Homo sapiens: one gene and its partner. The protein of the gene in region 2 interacts with the protein of the main gene of each other region in a pairwise test. Each region holds a gene or a part of one and is shown on either strand. Other genes may lie near its edges.

Evidence for each region. The genes of interacting proteins can lie anywhere in the genome.
Region 1: the proteins of SP2 (region 2) and NFYC interact in binary tests that used the Homo sapiens proteins (3 or more experiments, as listed by UniProt).

Annotation. Positions count from the first base shown.
Region 1 is NC_000001.11:40,768,194-40,771,919, forward strand, and holds the end of NFYC (nuclear transcription factor Y subunit gamma), read left to right. Parts: intron 1-1,162; coding exon 1,163-1,222; intron 1,223-2,203; coding exon of another isoform or gene 2,204-2,515; coding exon 2,516-2,635; 3' UTR 2,636-3,410; downstream 3,411-3,726. UniProt on the Homo sapiens protein: Component of the sequence-specific heterotrimeric transcription factor (NF-Y) which specifically recognizes a 5'-CCAAT-3' box motif found in the promoters of its target genes.
Region 2 is NC_000017.11:47,894,736-47,898,335, reverse strand, and holds the start of SP2 (transcription factor Sp2), read right to left. Parts: upstream 2,101-3,600; 5' UTR 2,050-2,100; coding exon 2,043-2,049; exon of another isoform or gene 1,999-2,042; intron 1,600-1,998; exon of another isoform or gene 1,490-1,599; intron 522-1,489; exon of another isoform or gene 409-521; intron 1-408. UniProt on the Homo sapiens protein: Binds to GC box promoters elements and selectively activates mRNA synthesis from genes that contain functional recognition sites.

The sequences.
Region 1 (3,726 bases), on a different chromosome or scaffold from region 2:
AATCTCAGCTAATATGAATGGCAATCCTGCTGGCCACAGAGCAGTTAACCTTCTTATCTATGTGGAATATTTTCCATTTGTCTCAGGCTCACTTGTTTATTCTGCAACATTTCTGGAATACTAACTTTGTATGGGCTCCTGCCCTCAGGCATCTTATAGGCTGTTGGAAGGAAAAGGACCAAAATAAGGAACAATAGTAAAAAATAGTCATGAAGCCTGTCATACCTGTTCCCTTTCTTGTTCCTCATAGCCTCATGGGTAGGCCTGCAGGGGTTGTTTTTGGCCATGGTGAGGACATTTGAGAGGACAGTCCTTGTCTTGCAGGCTGGCTGTGATGATTCCAGGAAATGGTACACAGAGGACACTGCTGGCCAAATGTTCCATAGGAACACATGTGCATGCACACCGCAGTCTTCTTTCTAGTTTACCGAGCTGCTCCCAGCAGTTGTCATTATATATGCAGTTCTACATGTCAGTACATTTATCTAAAATCCATTCACAGTCCACACATAAGATTTTAAGTACTTGTGATAAATGTTGTCTTTGTTCCACTCCCGGTCCCTCCCCTTTTCTCCTCCCCTCCTTTGGCCCAGAGGGCTGCACAGTGCCTCTCTCGGAAAAAGTACTTCATAGGTTTGCCATGAGGACTGCTGGGACCAAGGCCACTTGCTCGCCAGGGTGTTTCATATTCCAGTCAGATGATCTGGGTGATACGGGTTTGGTTTGGAGCCCACCTTCCAAGAATGAAAGAGGCCACTTACCACTTTGTCTGACACTTTGCAGTCCGCCTTCACTGGCTGAAAGACTGACTCTTAGGACTTCTACCCCAAACCATAGCACCTAGGGTCCATGTGTTCTGTTTGAGCCTCAGAGTTTGAGATGAGTGGGTGGTTGAGGGAGTAGGCATTCATTAGAGAGATGGGTGTGGGAACTATCTATTATGTGCTCCAGGATTCTCGATGTCACTTTGTGCTGCCAACTCTTGACGTAGCCATCAGTGCTAGATTAGGAGGGGTGCTTGCTTGCTTACTACCCATTGAGCACCTGCTGGGCACTTTATATGCATTGTCTCATTTGATCTTTATGACCCTCTTTTGGGTGGTGGGCTGGTGGATCAGACCCTGCAGCTGACATACCAACTCTACCATCTTGATTCTTACAGATTACACAGACAGAGGTCCAGCAAGGACAGCAGCAGTTCAGCCAGTTCACAGATGGACAGGTAGGGTACCCAACCTGGGCTGGGCAGAGGGTGAGGATTTGCGGGGCAGGGTAGCAGGTAGTATCTGGGTTTGGATGGTTAGGGCAACTGTCCTGTCCTCTACTAACAGTGAGTGGACAGAAATTGTTAAAACAAGTACGGTATTTAAATCAGGGCACCTATCCTTTAGTTTTATAGACTTAGTGGGAACTAAAATAATCTTAGACATGTAGCCCAAATTGCCATTTTACAGATGAGTAAACTGAACCCTGGAGATGGGAAGTGCCTTGTCCATGCTCCCCTAGATGTTCATTGCAGAGCCAGGACTAGAGAGCAGGTTTCCTGTTTCCCTCTCTAGAACTGTATTTTTTTCCCCTCTAAGCCATGATGCTGTTTTAATAGCATGGACTGTTGAGACGCAGAGAACACGTGACCTCTTGAGCTCTCTGGGTGCCTGAAATTCAGTCATTTTCAGTCCATGCGAGGAGAGAATCTTCCCTTTTCCCTCTGCTTTCCCCTCACAGTACAGTCCCAGAGACCACTGAGGACATGATAGGATGACATGCCCAAACTTGTGCCCTCTGCTGCTCAAAAGGGAGAAGAGCTGGCATCAGGACCCACCTCTGGCTTCTGCCAGCACCACATGCTAGGCTTACATGCCAGGGCTCCCATGAGGGCTTGGCTTTTGGCTTCTTTGGGGAGCGCCTGGGAAACCAAGTAGTCAATTAGCCCTGACCTTCCTAAGTGGCTGTGTGAGTATCTTCTCCACCCCTGGAGCGTCTTGGCTATAGTTAAGTGTTTAATACCAGGCCACCTCCTTAGCAGGGTCCATGGAGAAAATTCAAATTCAGTTTAGTTTCAACCTGAGCCAGATATTCTGAGAAAAGAAGGAGAGGAGGGGGTAATCCTACTGCCCCTGCCAGTGTAGATTACCAAGAGTTGGGGAAATGCTGACTTCCAAGCTGCTGGTACAGTGGTTCGAATTGCTTGTGTTTGCCACAGAGGAACAGCGTGCAGCAAGCTCGAGTCTCTGAGCTAACGGGAGAGGCAGAGCCCAGAGAAGTGAAAGCCACAGGAAATTCAACTCCCTGCACCTCTTCCCTGCCCACCACACACCCCCCCTCACACCGGGCTGGTGCCTCCTGTGTCTGCTGCTCCCAACCCCAGCAGAGCTCCACTTCCCCTCCTCCTTCTGACGCCTTGCAGTGGGTGGTGGTTGAGGTATCTGGGACCCCCAACCAGCTCGAGACCCATAGGGAGCTGCATGCCCCTCTCCCAGGGATGACCTCACTCTCTCCTCTCCACCCCTCGCAGCAGCTCTACCAGATCCAGCAAGTCACCATGCCTGCGGGCCAGGACCTCGCCCAGCCCATGTTCATCCAGTCAGCCAACCAGCCCTCCGACGGGCAGGCCCCCCAGGTGACCGGCGACTGAGGGCCTGAGCTGGCAAGGCCAAGGACACCCAACACAATTTTTGCCATACAGCCCCAGGCAATGGGCACAGCCTTCCTCCCCAGAGGACCCGGCCGACCTCAGCGCCTCCTGCAGGCTAGGACACTGGTGCACTACACCCCATGCCTGGGGGCCGAGATTCTCCAGCAGAAAGATGCAATATTTTTTGTTTCCTTTTTTTCCATTTTTTTCTCTAAGGAATCAATATTTCAATATGTTGAGTGTGTGTCCAATGCTATGAAATTAAAATATTAAATAACATATTTATGGCATTTTCTTGAAGAGTGTGGTTGAAGAAATATTTCTCCTTTTGTTTTTCTTTTTTTTTTGTTTGTTACTGCCACTTCTTTTTAGGAGCAAATCTCCCCAGGGGTGTACGGTATTTCTTGACTCTGGGAACAGCTGCTACCCCCAAGACTTGCCACGTTGTTCTGCCCTCAGATGGAATTAGGTGAATGTGTGTAGCTGCTTTTTCACTCGTGGTCCTCTCCCCATCCCTTGCTCTGACCCCAGAGCTCTGTGTATTTGCATCCAGAGGCCATGGAAACATTCTTTGCATTTAAGAGACAGATTTATTCCCTGTGGAGAGTGGGTGGATTCATTGCCACACTCTTTTCTCCCAGGGACCCAGGAAACTAGGACTTTGTGTGTTTGCTGCCCACCTCCCTTTTATTTTTTAAATGCATTAAAAACTGTGCTAGTCTCCTTTGCATGGACTTCAAGCTGCATGAAATGCAATAAATCTCATTTTAGATAATTTAGAGTCTGGGTTTCTGTGTCTGGGGGCATTCATGGGGCCACTTTGCTTGGAAAGGTTCATTTGCCCTCAGTTTGTGTGTCTGGGAGAGAGGGCCACCCTTGTGAGAAGGAGATGTTCAAAGCTAAGGGAACTTAATGCTGTGTACCTAATTCAAACTGAGGTCCTTAGCCGATCTTTTTTTTTCTGGCTCTGTTGCCCAGGCTGGAGTGCAGTGGTGTGATCACTGCTCACTGCAGCATCAATCTCCTGGGCTCAAGCAATCCTCCCACCCCAGCCTCCTGAATTGCTAGGACTACAGTCAGGTACCACCATG
Region 2 (3,600 bases):
AAATATCCAAATGAACCAACCACTCTACTTGCTGAAATGCCATAAAGCTTCTTTACCCCAGACATTTGCCCAAATCTTATAATTTCTTTTCTCCTCTCTGACAGGCCTCTCCAGAGGCCCAAACTTTAATAGAATCTGAGAGAAAAAAGTGGCCAGTCTATCTGCTGTCCAGAGTGATGCCAAACTCTTTCTCCCGGAGCCAGTTCTCCCCGTTGGGCAGTCAGGTGAGGATCCGATTATTAACAAACTCTACTTGGGTCTCCTTGGCAAAGAGTTTCTGGCTTCAGCAGCCTAGCTCAGGGGGGTTCATAATTATGTCAGACTCGCTTTTTTTCTTGTAGTTGCTTTTAACCAAAGAGGTTAAGCCTCTGTACAACCAAGAGGAAGAACTAGAATTAGAAAACTTACCAATCGTCCCAGCCAATGATAATCCATTTCCAACAGGTATTAACGCCTGTTAGAAGCCACTGGAACACTGACATCATCAGCCCAATTGATAGGTTGTCTGATAGATTCGCCCCCTTCATCGCACACAAGAATTTAAAACAAAACAAGACACTGCAGTTATATTCATTATTGCAGACAATGGGTTTCTTTGTGTTAGTAATTGAAATTACTGCTGTGGTCTGGACTCCACCATTATTTCCTTTGCAGCCTGTGAGCCAGCCAACACTCTAAACTTTCTAGCCCTAAAAATTGTATCATCCAGAATACCAACTCAATACAGCCCTCCACTGTGAAACTGAATGCCTTCTGGGGTACAGCATGAAACCGTTTTAGACAGTGCATGCCAGTGCACCTTGAAACAGTGTCCATCTGTAATGAAATCTGTAAACGGGAAACTTGGGCCAATTCATTGTTTAAAGCAGATCTACTGGCTCATACCTTTCTCTAGGAAACAATAAGTGAACAAGAAGTAACCTCAGAAGAAGAAAGAACTTTGGGAGAATGCACTGAGAAAGGCCAGACTGAGTCCCCTTGGATGAAGTTAATTAAGAAACAAACATGACAGGATATTGCAATCAAAACCAAGGAATGCAGTGAGGACAGGTTTCTCAGTTGCCCAGAGGAGAAAACATAGTTCCTTCTGAACTAAAATTAGAAAGCCGCTGGCAAGGAAACATAAGAAGCATGGATAAGAGGCTGAAAACCGTAAGTCAGCAATGGGGATGGAGGTGGGTACAGGAAGAGAGCGAGTATCTATTTTGTTTTATTTCTTCTGTAATTCCTTAAGATTGTTTGCGCCTGAGCTTTGGGACTGCAGTAGTCTCCCCTACGGGGCGTCAAGTAACAGGCTGGGAGCTCTGGCAAGAAGTTCTCAAACTTCTCACAATTCTGCTAAGAGCTTGCAGATATCTAGCTGGAAGATCAAGGATCCAAGTAAAAACATTAAAGGAAGGTTTTTGCCCACTCCCCGGTGAGAGGTCATCTGCCCAGGGAGTGCTCTCGTGTCCTGACACCATCGCCCGACTGGGGATATATCAGTAACCGGGCTGTCGTCGATGCCGAGCAGTGCCCATCTGGTTGGCAGCGTCCGGGTCTCAAGCGTTCCCTCGCCCCTCTCTGTTCTCCGGGGAGCCCTGAATCGCTGGTGGGCATCTACAGTTAAGAGTGCAGGAAGGCCTCTCAGACACGGGGCGAACACAAGGGCTGTTGGCTGCCTCCTCAGAGCCGACCCAGGCATAGTTCGCCCAGGCGGGAGAGCGGCGTTGAAGTGGGTCGGCACCCGTCCGAGGGGTGCCAGGCCACCCCGGTGCCCGCTCCTCTCGCCGGCCCCCGGAAGCGCCGCCCTCCCGCCCGGCGGGCTCCGAGGGGGCGGGGAGTCGAACGCCCCCTTCCGGGTGCCTCCGCCCGGCTGGCCAGCCCCGCTCCTCCTCCGGGCGGGAATCCTCCCTCCCCCGCCCCTCCTGAAGCCGGGCCCCGACGCCAGACCCAGCCCCAGGGGGGAACCCCCGGCCTCGGCTCCCTCTCCCCGCGGCCTCTGCCCGTCTTCCTGACCCTTGGGGGCCGGGAAGACCCCGCCGGCAGCGGCCGGGACCCACCGCTCATTACGACATCTTCCTCCCTGGCCTCCGCCGCCTCCGCCGCCACCGAGAGCCTGACACCGCCCGCCAAGCAACCGCCAATCCCGGAGCCCGCCACCGCCCGAGCGACGGCAGCCTTCACCAATAAGCGCTTGGAACATTGGGGACCGACAGCACTATTAACCAATCAACCAGAGGCGTCTAGAGCGACGTTGATTTGACCAATAGGTCTGTGCAATGTCACTGATGGACGGTAGAGCGCACCAACCGAAAGCCAATTGAATAATGAGTGACATGTGCATCAGCCAATTGGAGGGAGGCAAAGTCCCGCCCGCTGGGTGGTTGATGTACAGCAACAGGAAGCTGGAAGGGGAGGGGCTTAGCCGAAGAGTGCTTTTGTATTGGTCGAGGTTGACCTTCCACCCACCTCTAACCCAGAGGATGAATGATAGATCTGCCCTGAAGCCAATCAGAAGTCCTTAGGGTGAGGCCCACAAATGCCCCAGAAATAGCATATACATTGCGCCCTAAGTCCAGTCTCGCCCAGGTGTGGCAGGAGCTTTTACCTGCTCTTCGGCAGTAGCCGGCTGCCACTCAACCCCATGCCTGGTGAGTGGAAAGCCATCAACCTTTTATTTAGTCCCTCTCTCGTTGTCGCCTGGGGAGGGGCGACTTTGTACAGTGAGGCACTGGGGTCCGGCACCATAGTGGGAGTTGGGGTTGTTTACGCGACACTTCTAAGGGGATTTTCACAATCGGTTAAGCCCCCGTTAATCCTCACATGGTTATTGCGGCGACCCCCATAGCCCACGGTCCCAAACGTGTGCATCTGAATCATCCGAAGCTCTTTCTAAAGGCAGGCTCCCCTGGCCGCCTCTCCTAATCCGACTCGGTACTTCACGGGGCGTGCCTAGAATCTGCATTTTAGCAAGGGCCTCGCGTGGACAGAATTGCACGCTTGAGTTTGAGAAGTACTGCTTGGCCTCTGCCCCACTTACCCTTACCTTCTTGAGATGAGGTAAAGCACTTGGTAGGCACTAGGCGGGTAGGTTTATCTTTGCTCCCAAGTCTCTTCCGAGAACTTGGGAAGGCTGCCTAGCTTAGTGAGGGAATCCATTCTGGCTTCAGACCAGTCTGGGTTTGAAACCTACACATCCCACTAACTTAGGCAGGGTACCGAAACTCCCTGAGCTTCATGTCCTCATCAGTAAAACGAGGTTAATCACACCTACACCTTAGCGCGATGGCTTAAAAAAAAAAAAAAAAAAAACAAACAAAAAAAAACATAGTCCATCAAGAGAAATACATTTTGCATACAGACCAGTACACTGCTATTTGTATGAGAGTGTCATAAAGTTTCCGAAAACAATGCTTACTACTTGTGACGCACTGATAGTTTCTATGCTTATCCTATCCTATCTTATTCTCCTTCTTGTTGATCATGACTGGCAGTTTGAAAAACACTGCTAGAAAAGGTTGGTGTGATAATACAAAATGCAGAGCAGAATACCGGGTACACAGTAATTGCTGAATAAATGTTAATAGCCTCTTCCAGTCTTCTCCTCTCAGTGTTAGC